Homo sapiens: one gene and its partners. The protein of the gene in region 1 purifies or fractionates together with the protein of each later gene. This does not show direct contact. Each region holds a gene or a part of one and is shown in the gene's direction. Other genes may lie near its edges.

The links.
Region 2: the proteins of METTL6 (region 1) and DENND4A purify together in Homo sapiens (affinity purification with mass spectrometry; 3 studies listed by BioGRID and IntAct, with this or other methods). This does not show direct contact.
Region 3: the proteins of METTL6 (region 1) and PLS1 purify together in Homo sapiens (affinity purification with mass spectrometry; 3 studies listed by BioGRID and IntAct, with this or other methods). This does not show direct contact.
Region 4: the proteins of METTL6 (region 1) and ANXA5 purify together in Homo sapiens (pull-down; one large-scale study listed by IntAct). This does not show direct contact.
Region 5: the proteins of METTL6 (region 1) and ACACB purify together in Homo sapiens (pull-down; one large-scale study listed by IntAct). This does not show direct contact.
Region 6: the proteins of METTL6 (region 1) and U2SURP purify together in Homo sapiens (pull-down; one large-scale study listed by IntAct). This does not show direct contact.
Region 7: the proteins of METTL6 (region 1) and PSME3IP1 purify together in Homo sapiens (pull-down; one large-scale study listed by IntAct). This does not show direct contact.

What each region holds. Positions count from the first base shown.
Region 1 is NC_000003.12:15,417,545-15,421,044, reverse strand, and holds part of METTL6 (tRNA N(3)-cytidine methyltransferase METTL6), read left to right. Parts: intron 1-3,500. UniProt on the Homo sapiens protein: S-adenosyl-L-methionine-dependent methyltransferase that mediates N(3)-methylcytidine modification of residue 32 of the tRNA anticodon loop of tRNA(Ser), including tRNA(Ser)(UGA) and tRNA(Ser)(GCU).
Region 2 is NC_000015.10:65,687,794-65,691,293, reverse strand, and holds part of DENND4A (C-myc promoter-binding protein), read left to right. Parts: coding exon 1-879; intron 880-3,500. UniProt on the Homo sapiens protein: Probable guanine nucleotide exchange factor (GEF) which may activate RAB10. Promotes the exchange of GDP to GTP, converting inactive GDP-bound Rab proteins into their active GTP-bound form.
Region 3 is NC_000003.12:142,672,893-142,676,392, forward strand, and holds part of PLS1 (plastin-1), read left to right. Parts: intron 1-3,264; coding exon 3,265-3,397; intron 3,398-3,500. UniProt on the Homo sapiens protein: Actin-bundling protein. In the inner ear, it is required for stereocilia formation. Mediates liquid packing of actin filaments that is necessary for stereocilia to grow to their proper dimensions.
Region 4 is NC_000004.12:121,670,214-121,672,980, reverse strand, and holds part of ANXA5 (annexin A5), read left to right. Parts: intron 1-354; coding exon 355-448; intron 449-1,338; coding exon 1,339-1,434; intron 1,435-2,767. UniProt on the Homo sapiens protein: This protein is an anticoagulant protein that acts as an indirect inhibitor of the thromboplastin-specific complex, which is involved in the blood coagulation cascade.
Region 5 is NC_000012.12:109,245,587-109,249,086, forward strand, and holds part of ACACB (acetyl-CoA carboxylase 2), read left to right. Parts: intron 1-39; coding exon 40-162; intron 163-592; coding exon 593-862; intron 863-2,019; coding exon 2,020-2,117; intron 2,118-3,500. UniProt on the Homo sapiens protein: Mitochondrial enzyme that catalyzes the carboxylation of acetyl-CoA to malonyl-CoA and plays a central role in fatty acid metabolism.
Region 6 is NC_000003.12:143,036,070-143,039,569, forward strand, and holds part of U2SURP (U2 snRNP-associated SURP motif-containing protein), read left to right. Parts: coding exon 1-35; intron 36-1,109; coding exon 1,110-1,266; intron 1,267-2,038; coding exon 2,039-2,134; intron 2,135-2,824; coding exon 2,825-2,891; intron 2,892-3,500.
Region 7 is NC_000016.10:57,183,240-57,187,492, reverse strand, and holds the start of PSME3IP1 (PSME3-interacting protein), read left to right. Parts: upstream 1-1,453; 5' UTR 1,454-1,672; exon of another isoform or gene 1,673-4,046; intron 4,047-4,253. UniProt on the Homo sapiens protein: Promotes the association of the proteasome activator complex subunit PSME3 with the 20S proteasome and regulates its activity.

The sequences.
Region 1 (3,500 bases):
ACTAAGTACAGGACTATGTCTAGTTCTAAGAGGTCAATTAACAAAGGTCACTCCCAGAGGATAGTCCTTCTTAAGAACTGAAAACGTGAATAAATGTTACACGTACATAATAAGCTGCCATTTGAAAGTGTCATCTAAATAGGAACGAACATTCTGGCATAGAACCCTTCCCACCTGTCAACTCAGTGGATAGATATAAGCATTTGTAGTGCTTAGAGGGGACTTTAACAATTTCACTTCCCTAAGTGTTTTTAAGAACAGTCTTTCCTATGAATTTGAACACAAAATGTACTCAGTGTATTAGGTTACTGACTCTACGTTGGTCATACGCTGTCAACCTCTTTAACATCTAGAACTAGATGTTGTAAATTAGGGCTCATTTGTCCTTCATATACACTATATACATAGCAAAGTAAAATAAAATGCATGGACATAAGGTACAGTGGTCAATCTTGCCTCACTGTAAACACATTGGTATAAAGCCCTTTGCACTTTATTCTCCTCCTTTTCTCCTGACGCAGTACAAATGTAATGATGTGTACTGCTTAGAGAAGTGGTTTGATCATTACATTTCCAAAAGGTAATATTTCAGTGAATTTTAACAAAAGGATATCTACAAAATGTGTTACTTACTACCCTACTTTTAACATACTTTGTGCACTTCTAAACATCTAGAAAGTCTCGATGTTTTAAATAAGGACTTAAGTCTGTCCACTTTATACACAGTAGATTTTTAAAAATAGTTGTGGTATCATATTTACCATAACATGCTTTCCTCATTCTACATTATTATATTTTGCAGAGTTTTTCATGTTAGTACATGTAGATTTTATTTACCTGTTATAATATTCCATGGAATGGATATAGCATACTTTAACAGTTACCTGGCTGGTGCAGTGGCTCACACCTGTAATCTGAGCACTTTGAGAGGCCGAGGTGGGCAGATCACGAGGTCAGGAGATCGAGACCATCCTGGTTAATATGGTGAAACCCCATCTCTACTAAAAATACAAAAATTAGCCGGGCATGGTGGCGGGCGCCTGTAGTCCCAGCTACTCGGGAGGCTGAGGCAGGAGAACGGCATGAACCTGGGAGGCGGAGCTTGCAGTGAGCTGAGATCATGCCACTGCACTCCAGCCTGGGTGATAGAGCGAGACTCTGTCTCAAAAAAAAAAAAAAAAAAGAAAAACAGTTACCCTATTTATATTTATTTGAATTGTTTCTATTTTTTTGCTCTTACAAATAGGGTTAATGTGATCAGCATCATATATATGTTCCCAAAATGTCTGTACACATTTGTCTGTGATGAATAATGGAAGAAGCAGAATTCCTTGGAAGAAGAGCATGCTCATTTATATTTTAATAGACAATGCCAAGTTTCCTTCCAAAAAGCTCATACTAATTTATAATTTCACCAATAATGTAAAGGTACCTTTTTCTGTATTGCCTCAACTCTTGATATCAGTCTTTTTTATATTTACCAATCTTTTGGACAAAAAATAATGCCTCCATATTTTAATTTGTTTTTTCCTTATTACCAGAGAGGTTGAAGGCCTTGTGGAAGGTTGATAGCAATAGTTAGCTGTGAGTTTATTTAGTCCACATTTGTTTATTGAGAGCTTAATGTGTGCCAGTCACTGTTCTAAGCACTGGAGTTAAACAGTGAACAGACAGGCAAAAATTCCCACCCACATGAAGTTTGTAGTAGGAGTTGTCCATTCATAACCTCTGCCCATTTTTCTATTGGTTTGTCATTTTCTTTCTTATTTTCAGGATATATTCTAGATATTTTGGTATGTATGTTGCAAACATTTCTTCTAGTTTATTCAGCATCGCTTTACAGTATCTCTTTTTTTTTTACACAAGGATTTATTTTATTTTATTTTTGGACAAGGTCTCACTGTGTCACCTAGGCTGGAGTATAGTGGTGCAAATTGCAGCTCACTGCAGCCTCGACCTTGTGGACTCAAGTGATCCTCAGCATCCTGAGCTGGGACCATGGGCATGCACCACCATGCCTGGCTAATTTTTAAAAATTTTTTGTAGAGATGAGGTCCTGCTGTGTTGCCCAGGCTACACAGGATTTAAATTATCATGGCAAAATATTAATCTTTTCCTTTTGAAGTTCTATTTTATGTCTTGTTTAGGAGTCCTTTACTCCTAGGATTTACTTTATTTTTCTTAGAGATCAGGTCTCACTATCCCAGGCTGCTCTCGAACTCTTGGGTTCAAGCGATCCTCCTGTCTCAGCCTCCCAAAGTGCTGGGATTACAGGTGTGAGCCACTGCGCCCAGCTATTCCTAGGATTTAGACATAATCACCTATATATTGCTCTTACTAATTTTTGGTTATATAGTTATTTTATAATTTTGGTTATGTTTTTTAATCTGGAAAAATTAGGGTCATTATTTCTTTGAATTCTTTCTTTAGCTCTTGTTCTCTCTTCTCCCTCTGGGATTCCAGTTATGTGTGTAACATTTTCTATTGCCCCACAGCCCTTAGATGCTGTTGTTATAGGGTTTATTCCCCCACTTTTTTCCTTTTTGCATTTTCAGTTTGTGTAATTTCTATTATCCTATCATCAAGTTCACTGACTGTTTCCTAGGCAGTACCTGTTTTGTTGAGAAACCTATTGAAAGTGTTCATTTCTTTTACCATATTTTTGGTTTTTAGCATTTCTCTTAGAGTCTTTTTATAGTTTCCATCCCTGAAATTATGTATCTGATTTTGCATGTTGTCTGTCTTTTCCATTAGAGTCTTTAGCATTTTAATCATAATTATTTTAAATGCCCAAGCTTTTGGATCCAGCATCTGTCATATTTGAGTCTGGCTCTGGTGATGGCTTATTCTCTTCACACTATGTTTTTTGCCTTCTGGGATGTTTTCTACTTTTTGGTTAAAGCTAGACATATTATAAGGGCCAGTAGATACTGAGGGATAGGGATTTGTAACAATCTAGTCAGGAATTGGGCTGTTGTTTGAAGTCTGTTGTTGCTGTCTGTGAGGTTTGTTGTTGCTGTGGGCACCAGAGACTTCAAACCCCTCTAGCAACTTGTTTTTGTCTCCTCTCTTGGATTTGGGTCTTCCCTTTGTACCGTTTCCCAAAGAGTCTATCTGTTGTGGCTCTCCCAGCTGCAATTTCCTGTTATTCTTGGAGATTCGATGGTGGGGTGTGGGAGAGGGGGTCGTTCTCTAATGTTCTGCTTCTCCAAATTTGAACTGGTACCGTGGGCCTGTGTCTCAAGGGTAGTCATTTGTCTCAAGGGTAGCCAGTTCTTCTAAACACAGTAAATTGAATGAGAAATTTTTTCCTCACTCATAATTGTCATCTTTATTATCTACCTTTTTGTCTAATTGTCACCTTTGTCTATCTTTTATCATATAATATACAAAATTCCTGTTTATATATACAGTATATACAGGTCTGTTTTGGGACTCTGTTTTGTCTCAGTGATACATTTGTCTCCATTCTCAAACCATGTTGTTTTATTACTACGTTT
Region 2 (3,500 bases), on another chromosome or scaffold:
GTTGAAAAATTGGGAGCTGATGCAAAAATTCTTTCAAATGTTATCTCAAAAAGCACGAGACCAAATACTCTTGATATTGGGAAGCCACCTTTAAGATCAAAAAGAGACAGTCTAGAAAAGGAATCTAGTGATGATGATACACCTTTTGATGGTTCTAACTATTTGGCAGATAAAGTGGATTCTCCTGTTATTTTTGACTTAGAAGACTTAGACAGTGAAACAGATGTATCAAAAGCAGGATGTGTTGCTACACAAAATCCCAAGAGGATTCAACGTATGAACAGCAGCTTTTCAGTAAAACCTTTTGAAAAAACTGATGTCGCAACAGGATTTGATCCCCTCTCTCTTTTGGTTGCTGAGACTGAACAGCAGCAAAAAGAAGAAGAGGAGGAGGATGAAGATGATAGCAAAAGCATTTCAACACCATCTGCTAGGCGTGATTTAGCTGAAGAAATTGTGATGTATATGAATAACATGAGCAGTCCTTTGACAAGTCGTACACCAAGCATTGATTTACAACGGGCATGTGATGATAAATTAAATAAGAAAAGTCCACCATTGGTCAAGGCATGCAGAAGATCTAGTCTGCCTCCTAATTCTCCTAAGCCAGTGAGACTTACCAAATCTAAAAGTTACACAAAAAGTGAGGAGAAACCAAGGGATAGACTTTGGTCTTCTCCAGCCTTCTCACCTACTTGCCCATTTAGGGAAGAATCTCAGGATACATTAACCCACTCATCACCTTCATTTAACTTAGATACACTACTAGTACCTAAACTAGATGTTCTAAGAAACAGTATGTTCACTGCTGGAAAAGGAGTTGCAGAGAAAGCAAGCAAATGGTATTCAAGATTCACCATGTACACCACATCATCTAAGGTAAGTTTGGTTAGTATTTGCTACTTTTACTGTCACACACACATATCCATCACCACCAAAAGCCCCTTACTCGTTTTAACTATTCTTCTAAACATAGCTTTATAAAAAGGACTCATTGGGTATGTAAGTTTTGTAAGTATCAGAATTGGAACTGAAATAATAACTTCAAAGAAAAGAAAACTTACTAAGGTTATATTTGTAGTTCAGTTTTGAAAGAGTGATTTGTAGCTGGAGTAAGAATTAGTGTCACGTGAAAGTACTTACTGAATTTCAGTATTTCCTTCAAGATGCAGATTTTTTTTCCAGATAATGTGTCCAATATGCCCTCAAAAATTACCAGTCAGGCATATGATTTGCCCTTCTGGTTAGGATGGAGTAACTTACGATAGACTTACATACCTTCCCCTAAGAGCTAAAAGCTAGATGAAATAGAGAAAGTATCTGTTTAAAGTCATCAGAGAACTGCTGAAGTAACTAGAAAGCAGAGAGGCAGGATTCTAGAGAGGTGAGCTGAAGTTCTAGAGCCACTTTCTCCCTGAGGGGATTTGCTCATTATGGGCATGAAGCACTAGGTTGTAAATCTAGGCTTTCCCTTATCAGAAGTTTTGGGAACTTGTGGGTTAGAGAGACAAAATTGAAGACTTTAAGGGCCTCAAATACACTGAAGATTTTCTTCCTTCAAGACATTTTCCAAATACTTGATACTGCATGAGAAGGGTAAGTAGAACGTCTGTGAGAAATCAAGTTCTCAGAAGTTTCATGGTACTGGAATCATAATAGCTCGATTCAGGAGCTGCCAGAGGGAGGAGGGCCTCAGTTGGAATACTTACAGAGGTATGCCTTAGGACCATTGGCAAACCAGAGGTAGACTAAGCCTGACCAAAATTGCAACCTAGACTTGACTCAGGTTATCTGTGATTTGGTTAAAATAATCAGCTTTTACTCTATCAACAGAGAAAAGATTGTACCTTTTCTGGAGAAATAAAACATCAGTTAGAATCCTTACAGTTTTTAATATACAATGTCTATCACTCAATTAAAAATAGCTATGCCAAGAGACAGGAACATAGCTAAAAAATGAAGAAAGCAGATAACGGAAAGAGACCCTCAAGTGATCCAGATGTTTGAATTAACAAGGGACTTTGAAATAATTATAATATGTTCAAGAATATAAAGGAAAAGGTTTAAAAAATAACTGTAAAGATGGAAGATTTCACTAGATAATTGGAATGTATTAAAAATAATCAAACCTAAATTTTAGAACTGAAAATGAAATAAAAAGCAAAAATCTTGAGCCAGAGAGAAGAGATGCATTACCTGCAAAGGAGCAGTGGTCTTCTGAAGAGAAACTATGATGTCAGAAGACACTGGAAAGATATCTTTAAAGTGCTGAAAGAAAATAACTGTCAACCTATTTTTCTGTACTCAACAAAAATATTCTTTAGGAATTGGGGTGAGAATACTGGTTCCACTGTGGTAACGTAAGGCCACCACAGCCCATCCTTCCCACTGATTACAACTTAAAAACCAGACAAAATATAAAAAACAACTAAGGACTCTGAAAAATAAATAAAAGCAGGCAGTTTCTGGGGAGAGACCAACACAGAAATGAGTTTATCATTTCCTTTCCTCATGCATCTTTGCCCCAAGGGCAGTCACATCATGGCATGGCACCTCTGGCAGATAAACTTCAAGAGAAACCCCATATTTCCTGAACAGAGAAGCCTGAGAAAGAGGCCTCTTTGTGCAGAAAGTTTGAGGGGAATCCCATACAAGTTTCACCCTACCCCTTGACCTGCACAGTTATGGGACAGATGCAAACTGGAATAGAAAAGGCTTAAGTAACTGAACTGCAAGTTCACTGCCTACAAAAAGTAAAACACAAATTACAGTCTGAATATAACTCAAGTGTTTGCCTGCTGAAACAAGAGCATCAACAATCTCGGAAGTATTATAACAGTACCCAGGCTACATAACATAATATTCAGTGTCCAAGATAAAATCCAAAATTACTTGGTATAAAGGACCAGGAAAATGTGACCAGTTCTCAAGGAAAAGACAACTCCAGAATGACTCAGATGTTGGAAGTATCAGGGAAAAACTTTAAAGCAGCTTCCATAACTGGTTCCTTTAGGTAAAGGAAAACACATTTGAAATAAATTAAAATAAATTCTAGCAAGAAATAGAATGTATTAAAACAAATTTTATAACTGAAATATAATCCAATGTAAACTGATCAAATGGGTTAAATAACAGAATGGAGATGACAATGAAAAGTAAACTTAAAGATACAGTAATAGAAATTAGAAGAAGAGAGAAAAGATTTTTATAAAAATAAACAGCCTCAGGGACTTGTGTGACAATATCAAAAGGAACAAATGAAATATGGATAACTGGAGTTCCAGAAGAACTGAAGAGAGATTCTGTTAGAAAAGATATTTGAAGATTTGAAAAAATAATGGCTGAAACCTCCAAAATTGGTAAAAGATACAGATTTATAGATACAAGAGACTCAGCAAATTACAGACAGAATTAAACTCAAAACCACACTTGCACACATCAAAAGTAAACTAAAAATCAGAGATATTCACCTGCTAACAAGAAAACGGCTGCTAAAAAAA
Region 3 (3,500 bases), about 130 Mb from region 1:
AGAACACTATATTCATTATCAGTCACTCCCCATTTCCCTCTTCCCGAAGGCTCTGCAACCATTAAACTGCTTTCTATTTCTACAAATTTGCCTATTCTGGAAGTTTCATATAAATGGTATCATACTGTAGTGGCCTTTCATTTGACAGGCTTCTTCACTGGTGTAATATTTTCAAGGCTTATCCATGTTGTCACATATATCATACTTCATTCCTTTTTTTCTGACTGCAGCCTCGACCTCCAGAGTTCAAGGGATCCTCCCACCTCAGCCTCCCAAGTGCATAACCATGCCTCCCAAATGTGTACCACCATGCCCAGCTAATTTTTCTATCTTTTGTAGAGATGGGGTTTTGCTATGTCACCCAGGTTGATCTTGAACTCCTGGGTTCGAGCGATCTGCCTGCCTTGGGATTACAGGTGTGAGCCATGGTACCTGGCCCCTTCATTCCTTTTTATTGCTGAATATTCCATTCTATGGGCAATACCACATTTTGTTTATCCTTTCATCAGGTGATGGACATTTGGGTTGTTTCTAGTGTTTGGCTATTATAAATAATGCTATATGAACACTCATGAATGCATTTGTGTGTGGACATATACTTTGAATTCTCGTAGGCATATACTTAGGAGTAGAATTGCTTGAATTTTTGTTAACTCTATGTTTATCATTTTTAAAGAACTGCCAAATTGTTTTCCAAAGTGGCTGCACTTGTGAGGGCGATCTGGCTGCGACATCTGTCACCCCATTGATTGCCAGGGTTGATTTGGCTGATCTGGCTGGCTAGGCAGGTGTCCCCTTCCTCCCTCAGTGCTCCATGTGAGTCCTTCCCGAAGCTGCGTGCTCGGTTGAAGAGGACAACCATCCCAATAGAAGAGGACTGGTCTTTGGTCAAGGGTATACGAGTAGCTGCACTCCCCTGCTAGAACTTCCAAACAAGCTCTCAAGGTCCAAAGTGGCTGCACCATCTTACATTCCCACCAGCAATGTATGAGGGCTCCAGTTTCTTCAATTCTCACCAACACTTGTTTTTGTCCATTTAAAAAATTACAGCCATCCTAGTGGTTGTGATGTGGTATCTCATTCCTGGTTCCTATACCTGAAACATCCTTTCTTTCCTTGCCTATATTCACCTATTGAAAAACTATATTTCAAATAGTACCTCCTCTATGAAGCCTTTTCTTGATCACCCTAACTAAAAGTGATTGCTTCTTTTTTTAAATTCTGCAAACATTGCATATATATTTCTGGTGGTGTGTGTATTTCCCTTATATCACATTTCTTTGTATATTTGTTTTACAATTACACTAAAAAATTCCTCAATGGCAGATACAGTATTTTAGTGATCTCTGAATTCCTAGACTCCAAATCCTTCTAAGGAGGTGTGTATGAGGAGGCGAGAAGATAAGGCAGATTATGATATGTACAAAGAGGAAATATTAGTACATATTTGTGTTTTTGTTGACTTGTGTGTGTATGTATGTGTGGTGGATTAAATTTTGGGGGTACCTGCAAAATATTCCCTTGGGAAAATTACTTAATTCTAGGAACTGGGGCAACAATGGAGAAGGCCAAATCATTATGTGCTACCCTCTGATGGAAATGGGGATTATTTACTTTAAGGATTTATAATCTTAAATGGTTTTTATATCTACAGAATAATAATAAAGTTGTACAATGTTTTTACTTTAAGTTCCTTCCTATTTTCCCCACTGCATAACCCAACAAAATTTTCTACTTAAGATCAATGTACCCATACTAGAAGCCATGTGTTGAGAAGTTGTTGGATGAAGATGGCCAAAGATAGTGCTGGTATCTAGATTTGTGTCAATTTTTTCTTCGTTTTTTGTTTTTTTGAGACAAGAGTCTTGCTCTGTTGCCCAGGCTGGAGTGCAGTGGCGTGATCTCGGCTCACTGCAACCTCCGTCTCCCAGATTCAAGCAATTCTCCCTGCCTCAGCCTCCAGAGTAGCTGGGATTACAGGTGCCTGCCACCACACCTGGCTAATTTTTGTATTTTTTAGTAGAGATGGGGTTTTGCCATGTTGGCCAGGCTGGTCTCAAACTCCTGACCTCAGGTGATCTGCCCACCTCAGCCTCCCAAAGTGCAGGGATTACAGGCATGAGCCACCGCACCCAGCCAATTTGTGTCAATTTTTTAATAGTTAAATTCCATTGAAATTGAGCTGTTTTATTCATTTGAATAACTCTTGACTGAATTCAGTATTTCTGTTGTAAGCTAAAAATCACAGCTCTCTAAACCTTTTGGGGAGGATGGGATTTATTGCCATGGTATTTGTTTCTTGTATTTTTTTCCTTATTTAATTAACATATACATATTTGACCTCCGATGGTCTGCTTCTGACTCATTAGCTTTCAGAAGCAATACATATTTGGAAATATTTTTGAATCAAACCAAATATATATTGTGCTCATTTAAGATATATACCTTCATCTCTCCTAATAGATCAGTTTTTTGTTTGTTTTTTTGTTTGTTTTTTGTTTTTGTTTTTGAGACAGAGCCTTGCTCTGTCACCAGGCTGGAGTGCAGTGGCGCGATCTCGGTTCACTGCAAGCTCTGCCTCCTGGGTTCATGTCATTCTCCTGCCTCAGCCTCCCAAGTAGCTGGGATTACAGGCCCACGCCACCATGCCCAGCTAATTTATTTTTGTTTATTTAGTAGAGATGAGGTTTTAACATGTTGGCCAGGATGGTCTTGCTCTCTTGACCTCGTGATCTGCCCGTCTCAGCCTCCCAAAGTGCTGGGATTACAGGCGTGAGCCACCGTGCTCCCCGTTTTTTTTTTTGAAAGGGTCTCTCTTTGTGGCTTAGGCTAAAGTGCAGTGGCAGGATCTCCACTCACTGCAACCTCCACCCCCCGGTTCAAGCAATCCTGAAGCCTCAGCCTCTCGAGTAGCTGGGACTATGGGCATGTGCCATTATGCCTGGCTAATTTTTGTATTTTCAATAGAGACGGGGGTTTCTCCATGTTGCTCAGGCTGGTCTTGAACTCCTGACCTCAAGTGATCAGCCCGCCTTGGAAGTGCTTTGGGAAGTGCTGGGATTACAGGCGTGAGCCACCACACCCAGCCACCTTTCTTCTTTTCTTGAACCCTTTTGTGTTTTAGTAGATTTGTAATAATGGTCAATTATTATCTTTGAGCAGAAATTAACAAGTATGTTTTTGTAGTGCAATAGCTATGTATGTTTTTATAGTGCAATAAAGTTTGTGAAATGAGATTTGCCTACCAAGGTTTTCTCCTTTCAGAGGAAGAAAAAGTGGCTTTTGTTAACTGGATAAACAAAGCCCTGGAGAATGACCCTGACTGTAAGCATCTTATACCCATGAATCCCAATGATGATAGTCTTTTCAAGTCACTTGCAGATGGCATCCTTCTTTGGTGAGTTGAACTTCTGGTTAAGGAAGCTGCGTTCTTGCTGATTACATTGATGAGCATTCCATGAAAACTCCAATTCAGCTGTCCATTGTCTTTTGGAGTCAGT
Region 4 (2,767 bases), on another chromosome or scaffold:
TATACATGGATGTATCAACAGTGAGGTAGTCATAACTTTCTCCTGACCCATACTGTTGCTTCTGAAAGATTGGAGGTTATGGCAGACATTTTGGGAACATGTAACCTTGCACCATTGCCGTGCTTTGTTGCTTGGACCCATGAATCTTCTGTGGCACAGTTCAGTGGCAAGCTCCAAAGGTGCTCCAAACTCAGTGAGCTGAGTTTCAGAGTAGGACACATTAGAAATGAAAACTATTAATACAAGATGATGAATCAAGTGAGTTAAAATTCAGGGAGTAAAAAACAAGTGTGTTTAAGAACCTGGAAATGAGATGGAGGAACAATTTATTAATTGAGTTTGAAATTTTTGCAGGCTTTATTTCAGGCTGGAGAACTTAAATGGGGGACAGATGAAGAAAAGTTTATCACCATCTTTGGAACACGAAGTGTGTCTCATTTGAGAAAGGGTGAGTGAAAAAAATCTGTATGGGGCAGATACATTGGTAAATTTGGAAAGTGCATGAGCCAGTGTGACAGAATACCTGCTACATAGCAGGGACTTAGAGAATGAATCAGTTTTTGTATTTCTTCCTTTTGGTGACCTGGAGAAATCTCAACATTGTTTTTGCTGCTGTTGTAGCTTTTACAAACTAGAGATCCTGAGTCCACCCTTCACTATTGGAGGATGGCAAGGGAGGTCAGTTCTCTAGATTGTTCCTCTCATAGTCACACATCACTGAATAGTGGCTCACTACACGTATTTCCTCCTAGAGGTTGGTACCCAGGACCTTATCTCTGGATAGTCATCAGCACTTGTGGTATCAGTTGGGAATGAATTTAGTGCAAGTGACAGAGAACCCTAATAGTGGCTTTAAAAATTGGGCTTTTTTTCCAGAGGTGGGATTCCATGGTTGATTTGGCAGGACCTGAGATCTTTCTGGTTTTTCTTTTTGCTCCATTATCCCTAGTGTTTTGGTTTTCTTTCTTCATTATCATAAGATGTCTGCTCTAGCTCCAAACTTAACCATTTCACAGCAGGAAGGAAAGAAAAGGGTAAACTAGTCCTATCTGTGTATCACTTTTTGTAAGTGAGGAGATTTCTCAGCATCCCCTCCAGTAGATTTACCTTTAGGTCTCATTGGCTATAACTCGTAAGGGGGCTGGCAATCAGTGAACAAAGTATATTTACAATCCATTGCTTAGGGCTTGGCACATTGAGGCTTTGAGCACAAGGTTCTGTCAGCAAGGAAGAAGGGGAGATTTGTGTTCAGTAAGACACTACCTAATCAAAGTAAATACCATCTTTCTGGAAAGAGTGATCCCTACATGATTAGGGAATCATTTTTATTTTTTCTAGTGTTTGACAAGTACATGACTATATCAGGATTTCAAATTGAGGAAACCATTGACCGCGAGACTTCTGGCAATTTAGAGCAACTACTCCTTGCTGTTGGTAGGTGATTTACAATGTATTGATATTTTTGGTGGTAAGAGCTAAAGCATTTTATTCAATTGAGGCTGCATCTGAAAATAACCACCTAGGTGTGAAGGAAGAGCTTGATATGATATTTAGGGGAAGCAAACTCCCAAATTTCCAATTCAGAAATTTATTTTGATGTTGGAAATACAGGATTGTCTGGTTAGTTCATCTAAATCCTATGGAAATACTAAGATAATTGTTTAAAAATCATTTTGAAGCTGCATTAAAAATATTATTTATTGATAAACCTGAAATGTCGTGGACATTATCTCAGAGGCTTGTAAACATTATTTCTGATACCTGTGGAATTTTAGAATTTTTTTGAATACTGTTCTCTCAGCTTTGAGGCAGACTAAGAAATTGTCATCTGGTTTAGAAAAGAAGAATATCTTTGATGTAATAGAAGATGTGATGATGGTTGTTTTCAAATTAAATAATTTAGTTTTATTTTAATTAAATATTCAGAATAATCTGGAAAAATTGGAGAACTGAATCTGTGCAGTTGATTGCAGTATTATGTACTCCAAAGCTAGGGAGAATCTAGTTTGTGAGTCTCCTGTGGTCCTTTTGTTCATATGGGTCTGCAGTGAGCCTCTGTCTGCTGTTTGTTCCAAGTATTTGGCCTTGAGCTCACACTTTTGTGCTCTCTGTCTTCAGGAGACTAAGCTAAAGATCTGCATGAACCAACTCTAAAAGTAGCCTTTCACTTGAGTACACAGTTAATGTACTTTTACCAGAAAACTTTTAGACAGGTCCTTCATAATTAGAATACGCATACAAATTAAGACATTTTCAGTTACTGGTGGCTGTTTTTCTTAAGACTTAGAAAAGGGAGAATTAAGAAATCTCCACATGCAAGGATTATTTTTGTATATTAAGGAATTTTCATGATAGATTTTCTGAAGCTAAGCAGACTGAGGTCTGAGCAGCCCCAACCTACATTCAACATGTACATGTTCAGAGAAGAGATCCTTTCTGATATTGATTTATCTGTTTTTGTACTGAAATGGATAAATCTCATGCTGCTCTGTGTGAATCATTGATATTAAAGAATATGTAGAGAGTATAGGAAGATCACCCAAGAGTTTAAAAAAATTAGGTAGTAATCTTGTATTATTTGCTTTAATGTCTTGGAATGAAAACTTCCAAGGGATTTGTGTAATTTATTGGTGATGAAGAATGTTGTGGTATTATGATAACAATCCAGGCTGCCCAAACTGCAGTATCCAAAAAGTCTTCACAGAACCAAGGCGCATAGAAAAACCTGTGCCCTTATTCTCCATGCCTTTCTATGCAGACCTCAGAA
Region 5 (3,500 bases), on another chromosome or scaffold:
ATGACTTCAAGTTTTTTCTCTTTCCTCTTCTCTCCCCAGGCTCTCTTTAAACTGTGGGGCTCCCCAGACAAGTATCCCAAAGACATCCTGACATACACTGAATTAGTGTTGGACTCTCAGGGCCAGCTGGTGGAGATGAACCGACTTCCTGGTGGAAATGAGGTAATAGCTCAGCGGAGCCTAACCCCTGGCTGGAGTCACCCCCTTAAAAATATTTTTGGGCCAGGTGCAGTAGCTCACACCTGTAATCCCAGTGCTTTGGGAGGCCAAGGTGGGTGGATCACTTGAGGTCAGAAGTTCAAGACCAGCCTGGGCTACATGGTGAGAACCTGTCTCTACATAAAATTTTAAAATTAGCTGTGTGTGGTGGTGTGCTCCTATAGTCCCAGCTACTCGAGAGACTGAGGCAGGAGTGATTGCTTAAGCCCAGAAAGTTGAGGCTGCAATGAGCTGTGATTGCACCACTGCACTCTGGCCTGCGCAACAGAGCAAGACCCTGTATCTAAAAAAAATAATAATAACTAAAATAAAATAAAAAGTTTTCCCCCAAAGAAACAAACTCATTTTCCTTGTGCATTCATCCCCTTGCCAGGTGGGCATGGTGGCCTTCAAAATGAGGTTTAAGACCCAGGAGTACCCGGAAGGACGGGATGTGATCGTCATCGGCAATGACATCACCTTTCGCATTGGATCCTTTGGCCCTGGAGAGGACCTTCTGTACCTGCGGGCATCCGAGATGGCCCGGGCAGAGGGCATTCCCAAAATTTACGTGGCAGCCAACAGTGGCGCCCGTATTGGCATGGCAGAGGAGATCAAACACATGTTCCACGTGGCTTGGGTGGACCCAGAAGACCCCCACAAAGTACGTCGTGAAACTGGCGGGGCAGGGTGATTCTGCTCAGCTACTACTGTATTTTCAGTGGGAGTGCTAGCACCTGCAAGAGGTGAAAAAAATCTCACTTATGTATAAAGCACAGATGTACATGTAGTGTATAAACAGGCATACAGTGTATCAGTGATACTAACATTTCACTGTGGCGGGGGGGATGGTGATGAGAAAAAAAAGATCTAAAAAGGCTCCTTAACGGGGATAATGAAAAAAGTCTATAAACCCTGAGCTGATATACACTGAGCGCTCCTGAATGCAGTGTGCACTGAGAATGCAGAGGTGATTGTGTCAACTCCCTGGCCTCATAGCGTTCTTAGAATTATGGCTCACACCTGTCATCCCAGCAACTCAGGAGGCTTGGGTGGGAGGATAGCTTGAAGCCAGGAATTCATGACCAAGCTAGGTAACCTAGGCAGCATAGCCAGACTTCGTCTCTACTAATGAAAAAACTAGGTGAGCATGATGGTGCCTGCCTGTAGTCAGCCTCAGCTACTTGGGAAGTTGAAGTGGGAGGATCACTTGGAGCCCAGGAGTTCAAGGCTGCAGTGAGCCATGATCATCATACCACTGCACTCCAGACTGGGCAACTGAGTGAGACCCCCCATCTCAAAAAAAAAGAAAAATCTTTGGGGAGTTGTATAGATACCAGCTTGCCATAAAAGGCAAGATGAATGAGGGAAGCGCACGCATTCTGTGATGTGAAATGACAGGGGACAGTCATCCTTTCCATTCAGAGCATGCATTCTCGGGGGCGATATTGCCCACTACCCCCAAGAAGACAGAAAAATAATTTTTGGGGTGGCAATAAAATAGTTTTTAACATATATACATATACAGAGTATGTAAATAGTGGTTAAACAGTGTATCTTGAAAATTAAAATTTCATGTTGGGGTGCTGGCAATAAGAAATAAAAATGAGATAGTCCTTAGAGGAGAGCTTAGCTCAAAGCAGAACTTCAGTTTATGGCTGTTATTAATACGGTATTTACATGAGATGTGTTAATGTGTCATTGACATGTTACTAACATGTTATTAACATCCATCCCTACGATGTTCACATTAAGAAAAAAAAAACAGTGGCTTTCAGTGCAGGGAACTGGATTCGTAGCCTCACTAAAGTATTTTTTAAGGGATTTAAATACCTGTACCTGACTCCCCAAGACTACACCAGAATCAGCTCCCTGAACTCCGTCCACTGTAAACACATCGAGGAAGGAGGAGAGTCCAGGTAAATAACTTATCAGGTAGCTCCTTAATTTTGCTCATGGTTAATTTCAGCTGTCTTCTTTCCTCGGGGCTTGTGGCGATATTTTCCAGTGGGGTGGTGGTGTTTGTATGATGGGAACCAATGCCTGTTGGGGGCACTGATGCCTTAAACATTTGTTAAACTCTCCAAGGTGAGTCCATCCTTGTCATTCTAAAATGAGTGACTCCTTTCACAAAAAATAGCACGTCATGTAGGGAGAATGAGATTGGATTCTCGTGAATCTCCTAGGAGCCGCAGGCTCACATTTTGTGACCAAACTGATGCAGCGGTGACTTGGCAAACTGGGAAGGTATGGGTGGGGCAGAGAGAGGTCTGTTCTTCGAGAGCATTCAAAGGCTACTATCTTTTCCAGGACAAGTTATGTTTTTCTCAGTGGGATTAACTGACTCAGGATTTCCTAGACTGGGTTTTTTGCAATGTTAGTGACAAGCTGGGGGGAAATTCCATAGTCAGATGAGTTTGGGAAACACTGGGTTAAATGAGATCTCATAAACATCTTTATTGCAGACCTTCTTAGTACCTGTAGCATGCTGTATTAGTCAGCGTTCTCCAGAGGGACAGGACTAGTAGGATATATGTATATATGAAAGGGACTTTATTAAGGAGAATTGACTCACATGATCATAAGGTGAAGTCCCATGATAGGCTGTCTGCAAGCTGAGGAGCAAGGAAGCCAGTAGTGGCTCGGTCTGAGTCTAAAAGCCTCAAAAGTAGGGAAGCCAATAGTGCAGCCTTCAGTGGCCAAAGGCCTGAGGGCCCCTGGCAAACCACTGGCGTGAGTCCAAGAGTCCAAAGGCCGAAGAACCTGGAGTCTGATGTTTGAGGGCAGGAAGCTTCCAGCATGTGAGAAAGATGAAAGCCAGAAGACTCAGCAAGGCAGCTTACTCCACCTTCTTTCACCTGCTTTTTCTAGCCGCGCTGGCAGCTGGATGACTGGATGGTGCGCACCCACATTGAGGATGGGTCTTCCTCTCCCAGTCCACTGACTCAAATGTTAATCTCCTCTAGCAACACCCTCAAAGACACACCCAGAAACAGTACTTTGCATCCTAAAGTTGACACTTAATATTAACCATCACACATGCTAAAGTGCATTGTGAATCTCTAACAGAGGCTGGCGGGACAGTGTTTCTCATTATGTGGCCCTGGAATTTTTGATTGATTGATTGTGAATGGGTTTCCTCTGTGTACCCCCATCTCTCTGTAGACCGTTGGAGGAATATGGGCCGAGGGTGATATTTCACTGAGACAGCCCCTGAACAGGCAGATATCTTTGGTTGTATAAACCAAAAAGTATCTGAGACAGGTCTCAATCAATTGAGAAGTTTATTTTGCCAAGGTTAG
Region 6 (3,500 bases), about 130 Mb from region 1:
GACTTGTAAATATTATTGAAGAAAAGGAAACAGAGGTAGGCAGTCTGTATTTGTCTGGTTGTTTTTAAAATTCGTTTCTGGGGTGGAGGTTTCTTGGAGTTGTTCTGTGTTACATATGTGAGGTACATTTCTTTGTGAAAAATATCTATTGCTTACCATTAAGTAGTGGATTTTTATTGCTGGAACCCAGAAGTCAAAATTACATGTAACAGGAATTCTCTGTCTTGTGTCCTTATGTGAAAATTGGTGAGTGTTTTTTTTATTTAATGATATAAGAGTTATGATATATTGTTAATAGTAGAAAATAAGCAAGTAATAGAGCAATATGTATAGCATGACTTTATTTTGTTAAAGATAGCTATATAAGTAAAATATGTGCATGAAAAGATGCATCACATGATAGCAGATATACATCACCATTCTGTTGTTTTTTTTCTTTTTTACCTCCTAAATAATTACTGAATCCTTAATGTTTAATTCTGCCATGCTAGTCAAGCTATTATGTTTTCACTTTCACTCCTGCAGGATCTTCCTAATTGGCCTTACTGTTGCAACCCACGTGGTCCTTGTTTCAGTTTCTTAAATGTGTGTTTCCACCTACCATTGGACTTTGTACATGTCCTTCCCTCTTTCTGGGACTTATCTTCACCTGAGATCCTTCAGATCTCAGCTCAAACATAACCTTAGCCTTCTCTGACCTCTTTAAGTGAAACTTAGTATGCTAATAGTATGATACGCCCTTTTGCTGTAGCAGTTACCATAGTTACAGATAAGTATATATTGTTGTGATGATCTGATTTCCTGGTTCCCCCACCCCTGCAAAACAACAGCAAAAACCTTTACCAGGCTCTATAACAGGGGGACCAAACTTGTTTTTGCTCATCATTGCCTCACAAGGTACCTGGCACCAGTGAGCACTTGGTAAATATTAGATAAATGCACAACTGACTGCTTCTTTAGCAAACTGGATGATAGAATATGTTCTTACATTGTACCTCAGATTGTGGGTATCCAGTTATGTTGGCTTGTACTGGATTACAAATTAATCTTACAAGCAATGTGACTTCAGCAAGCAAAGGAAAATGTTATAATAGTACACATTTCCATAGGATGTTCCAGATGACCTTGATGGTGCCCCCATCGAGGAAGAGCTTGATGGTGCACCTCTGGAAGATGTAGATGGAATTCCTATTGATGCTACTCCCATCGATGATCTTGATGGAGTCCCTATAAAAAGTCTTGATGATGATCTTGATGGAGTGCCTTGTAAGTTCAGATTTCAAACTGATTAAATCTAGCTAATACATTTGGTGACCAAAACTCTAATTTCCATACATGCTGATATGGAAAAAGGTTATAGTTTCTCATGAACGTATCAAGTTATTAACTTTTCTATTTCTGATTTTTTTCAAAATTCATATACCCAGTAATACATTTATTTGTATGCTATGTATATAAAAGGCCAAGAAGAAGCATTTTTTTCTGGTCACATTTCTTTGCTGGGACAATCAGCCTCCTATAATATTAGCAAGTTTCTCTTTTTGTCTTGTCAGGAAATTATAGGCAAAATCTTGTGCTCAGTTATGCATGATCCTAGGTACCTGGTTTTATCAGTTTTTATTAGTTTTTCTAACTTACAACTTCAGTTTTCCTAGCTGCCTAAAATCATTTTGAAAATAGGAACTGTAGACAGCTCTTTGGTACATTTGAATTATATGTTTAAATATTGAATAATGTATGCAGTTTTATATTTCAGAGATTAGGTAAAGATATTAAAGATTTGTTTTACTTCTCAACTTCTTCACTTGCTTAATATATTACTAACCTGTATTTTCTGAATTGATATATATACTGTTAAAAATATTGCCCTCAGATGCAGAGAATTGGTTTAGTCATAGTCCTTGTTCTTAGTATTACTATTTGTCCATCTGTGTCCTTATTTTACTTTGCTTTTTAATAATATGGTGAATACCCATGAATGTAATACTTCGGGTCATCCACTAGTAGTCAGGGTTAATGGCTTATCTTTCCCTAATAGTGGATGCAACTGAAGACTCAAAAAAGAATGAGCCTATATTTAAAGTTGCCCCATCAAAATGGGAAGCTGTGGATGAATCTGAATTGGAAGCACAGGGTGAGTAAAAGTAAAATAAATATTTTTTAAATTAAGTACTTGTACGTTAATTATTGGTGTGCTTGTATATATGTTTTCCTTTTATGTTTTATAACACGTTTTAACCTTAATGCTCAATGTTGTCATATTTTGTGTCTAATGTATGCTTTTATTGTGGTTGGTGTTGCTGTTACAATTTTCTTAGGTCCTTCAGTTTGGAAGCTTTGAGAGTAATGAGATATCACTGAAAACCTTTCAGGTTAAGGCATTTTAGTAGCAAATGTAGATTGGAAGCTGTACCTACGTAGAAATCTACATAGAGGTCAGTTTCATAGAAACCAAGCTTTGACCCTCCCATAATGCTAGACTGATTAGATGCAATTTAGACCTGTCTTTCACACTTACTTAGACCTGTATCCTAGTGCTAATAATCTAATTGTTGCTATTTGTAGGTTCTAATGAAATAAATCTTAATATTCAACACAGAAATAAGGATGACATTATTCGTCACTTCATGAATTTGAATTATATTGTAGGTGTGAGGAAAGAGATTTGGCATATAGAAATAACTATTTAGAGAATTGATAAACATAGATTAAAAAAACTTCTGTAATATAAACTTTTCAATTCTAAAGCTTGAGCTTCCACTGTACTACTGAAAAAATGCTAGTTTACCTCGTGGAATTACATCCTCCTTTTCCTTTCATTCAGCTGTTACAACTTCTAAATGGGAATTATTTGACCAGCATGAAGAATCAGAAGAAGAAGAAAATCAAAAGTAAGAATCTAAGTTTTGAATATACTGTTTCTTGTTCATATACACTCCCCTTTTCATTAAGAGATATAGTTGAAATAATAGTGAAGTGGAAAACTTCACTCTTAAAAAATTTTGGGAGAGGATCATTTTTAGTTCTCCATTGGTTTTCCAGTGAATAAAGAGCTTTTGTTTTCTGGTCTTGATGGATCTGGTTTCATTTTGCTTTTGAGTTTTTTACGCTAGGTTATATTCTCACTTTGTAGTTACTAATTGGTCAACTGCATTTTTTTCAAACCTTTGCCATCAAATACTGTTTTGGGCTCCATAAAAAGTGGTTTTTAAAATGTGAATAGGAAAGGTTATACTCCTTTCTTTTGGATTGTACATTCTAAGAAAAAGATTGCATTATGGCCATTGTGTTATTTAAATATAAACCTTTCAGAAGAACTAAGAATGAATACAAAGGAAAAAATCTTTTCTTTTGAAATATAGAGAAATAATAATTTTGATTTTGCTGTTTGGTAATCACCCCAAAATTGTTTTTGTATTTGACACTGTGTGGTTGTAGGAATCTCTCCTCTCAGATTCTCCTGCAAGTCTGTATTGGCAGTTTTTAGGAAGTTCTTGACA
Region 7 (4,253 bases), on another chromosome or scaffold:
TGGTAGGTAAAGGGCCTGGAAAACTGCGGGATTCTACTCAGTCGATAACAGACACTTCTAACCCTTCAAAGTTCAAAGTACAACACTCCAGGGGGAGCAACCTCTCTCAGAGAACTATACAAGACAGGACCTCGGAGTCTCAGCCGACCGCCTCGGTCTCAGTCGGTTTCCCTCCCCAAAGACGGGGAAAGTGAGGCAGCAGGAGAGACAAATGCCTAATTTGGACTCACGCAAGGGGTGTTGGTGGGATAGACTCTCCCCACCCCACTCGGGCAATAAGCCCGGAAGCAGTTGGATCCTGTGTCTGGGACACCTGGTCGATCTACAGAGAGAGGGAATAATTCCCGTTTCCCTTTCACTACTCCCCACTCTGGCTTTCCTGTGGATGGAGGTGTCTTCTTCCCATCACCGCCCAGAAATCCCCTCTCCCCAAGGTCCTTACCCAATTTTCAGCTCCGGCTTCCGTAGTAGGACATTCCGCTAGTTCTAGCTCCTGCTTCCTAGCCCCATTCTCTCTCTATCCCAAGGCGTTTCTAAATCTCCCCGGGGAGGTATGCCTCATCCGTGCCACCTAGACCGTAAACTCCACAAAAAGAACCCTCCTAAAGCGTCCCTTCATCTACCCTTTCTATCCCGGGCACCCCTGAGTAGGTCAGGACCCCATCGGTACCAGGAGCCACCCCAGGAGATAGATAGCTGCCTCTCACCTGGGCCCTGTTAGCCGCAGCCTCCTCAGAAGGGCGACCCCCAAGAACCTCTTCTGGTGAGGACCCCCGAAAGAGGGAACACCCTCTTCTAGGAACCTCTTCAGATCCCTCAAGCGCGGGCCTCGGTGGAAAACCTCTCGGCTGTTTCTCAGGTTCTGACCAACGCCACCTCTCTCCCGGGCCCTTTCCAGAGCCTACCCCGGCCCCAGTCCGGTCCGCCCGCCCCAGGCTCGAGCGGCTGTTCCCCTCCCTCACAGACGTCCCCAACCCTCAGACTCCCTCCCGTTCCGCGTGCCCAGGGCTCAGAGCAGCGCGGTCGGGCTGTGGCACTGACTTTCTCTACCTCCCGGGCCCACCGGAGGGAGGGGGCGGCGGCGGCGGCGCGACTCCTTTGTGACAGGTCCGAGAGAACGGCAAAGATGGACGCGAGGCCACGGCGCTGCCATTACGCGCAGAGCCCACCCCCGCTTCGTACCGCCCCAGCCCTCCCTCAGTCCCCTAGGAAACGCCCCTTCCTCGGTGGCAAGCCCTCTCCTTGACAGCCAATCACCTTTCAAAAATCGTGTCACGTGATCAGCGGGACCGGCCCGCCCTCCAGGCGCAGACTGGCCAGTCCTCATCCTGAGGCGTGAATGGCCCAATCAAGTCTCTCCGGCTCGTTTTCAGGGTACCGGATTTCCATCGGGCTCCCGGGGAGGAAGAGCTCCGCGGATTGGGTTACGTCGCCGGAAGTGGGGCGGGACTCTATTGTGGCGGTGAGGAACAGGAAGCCCTGAAGGGTCAAAAGAAATACAAAAGCAAAGGCTATTTTCTTTTTTTTTTTCTTTCTTTCATTCATTCCTTCCTCTGTTTCTTTCTTTCTTCCTTTCATTTTTTTTTCTTTTTTAAGAGCGAGCGGCTCTGCGGTGGCGGTTTGGGGTGGGCGCCGCCGAGGTGAGGTCGTCTCGCCTCCCGCGCGCCGGTAGGTGAGTGCGGCCTCGGTCCTGGCCTGGCGGCGACACCTGGGTTCCAGCTTCCTTACGGAAGAGATGAGCTGCGGCTGCTGTTAGGGTTAGGGCCAGGCCTGTTCTCAGTCCGCGCACCCGCTCCTTGTCCGGAGTAGCCGAAGCCTGGGGCTTGCGGGCCCAGCCTGAGGGGAGCTGAGGGTGCCCGCGGGAAGGCATCTGGGTCGCGGCGAGGACCCTTTCAGGCGGGCCCAACACTGCCGGGCGTTTAATGGGGTTTCCCCAATTTTCTGCTAGGTAGGGCCACCCAGGTTTCAAGTGAGTAGCAGGCTCCGTTCCAGAGGTCTTGGAACAGGTCCAGGTTACTCACTCGGATGTGCGGCGTCTGGTTGGAAATGGTTGAATCCCAGAATGGCAGTGCAGGATGGGAAGCACATTTATTGTGTGCCATGTACCAGTTGCTGTGCCAAGCGAATTTTCTATTACGGAAAACAAGCCAGCTGGCCCGTTTTGCAGAAAACTTAAGAAACAAAGAGAGTTGAAGCGTCATGCTTGAGAGTTGGTGGTCCTTGTGACTGTCAGTCCACACAGAGGAAAGGGGGAGACCTGTTTGTTCGTAGTCGTGGTTCTTTAATGTTAGTGGAAAACAAGATCTCCTGGGGCCCTTTTAAAATGCAGTTTCTCAGACTCCCGCACGCTCGGGTAGCCCGACTGGTTAGTTCAGGAGTGGGACCCAAGAAGCCAGATGCGAGCCTGGTGATCGGAATTCCCGATGACCTCTTGCCTACCACCTGTGACATAAGATTTGTCGATTCATCAGTTATTTGGTGTATTCATGTGTCCACAGGGACACCATAAAATGGAAGGCACCCTTCTGAAATATTTGAAGGGAATCAGTGGGTAGACTCCTTTTTGATACAAAGTATTGAGCCGACAGCAGCTTTTACAGTCTTTTAGTTAGATGACCTGCGAACAATTTGTAAGGATCTGAAAGTAGAGGCTGCCCGATTATCTTTCTCAACTGAAGTCTTCATGTCCTTACCCTGTGGGGAAGTGCTTCATGATATAAGAAAGGAATAATTGTGTCAAAACCATTTAGTTGATTATCAGTCTTCACTTTCATCTTCCAAGAATGGTGATGCTTGGTTAGAATCAAGCTGCTGCTTTAGCTATTGAAAACCACGTATGTGGTAAATCAAGTAACAAGTGCGATGTACGTACAGGGTCAGTCATAGTGTAATTATGCCTTTATGGCAGCTAAATTAAGCATTTTCAACGTGTTCACCATTAGTCACCTTTTGAACATACTTTGTCTTCATTCTTAAATATTATGTTTCACTCTTTACTATAGAATATGTTGTTAAGATTGTTTTGTCTAAAATCAAGTATCGACAAGTTTAAAAAAAAGATTGTTTTGTGTTTGGTTTTCTGTATTTCCACTATGCTCTATGGAACTATGGGTTTGTTTTTGTTCAATTTGTTTGGTATTTATTAGACTTCTTGAATCTGTGGATTAGTGTCTTTCATTAATTCTGTAAAATTCTCAGCCATTTTATATGCATATATTGCTTCTTCCCATTGTTTCTCTTTTTTTTTTTATCGATTTAACTAAACCTTTTCACTCTTTTCTCTATGTCTTTTACTCTGTTCTTTCGTAGTACATTCTGGATAATTTATTCTCAAGTTATTTCCATTGTTATTAAACTCGGCCTCTGAAATCTTAAATCATATATTGCAATTTTTAGTTTCTGAAGTTCTGTTTGGTTTGTGACACTTTTACAGTTTTTTATTTCTTACTATTTTGAGGCTTAATTTTATTTCTTTAAACATGGAAAGTATAGTTGTTTTTATAATCTCTATGTTTAATTCCACTGTCTGAATTCCCTTTGGGGGAGTCTGTTTCTGTTGTCCATTATTCCTGCTGTTTTACTTCCCAGTTCACCTTTACTTTGAAGCTGTAGTTCTTTTGGGCACAAGATTAAGATGGAGAGGGAGGTAGTTGTCAGACTCCACTCCCTGGATGGGCTCCTGGCTTGAACTTGTTTCTGTTATCTCATAAAGGCACTGAAACTTTAGCTTTTAGGTCAGAGAAGTCCTCAGGATGAAATCCATTTTGAATATTGGGCTTAATTTCTGGTTTTCACCTTCTAGATTGTGTCCAAATTCTTTACTATCTTGTTAGCTTTTCTATTTAAGAATTAATATTTTTGGCTGGGCGTGGTAGCTTACACTTGTAATCCCAGCACTTTGGTAGGTCGAGGTGGGCAGATCACTTGAGGTCAGGAGTTTGAGACCAGCCTGGCCAACATGGTGAAACCCTGTCTCTACTAAAAATACAAAAATTAGCCAGTCATGGTGGCGGGCACCTGCAATCCCAGCTATTCGGGAGGCAGAGGTAGGAGAATCGCTTGAACCTGGGAGGTGGAGGTTGCAATGAGCTGAGATCATGCCACTGCACTCTAGTCTGTGTGACAGAGCGAGACCCTATCTCAAAAAAAAAATTATTTTTGACAAATTTCCAGCATATTTAGTGCAGAGGTGGAGAATTGGTTTCAATTACCTAGCCCACTATTTCAAGAAATGAAAATCCCCCTGTATTCTG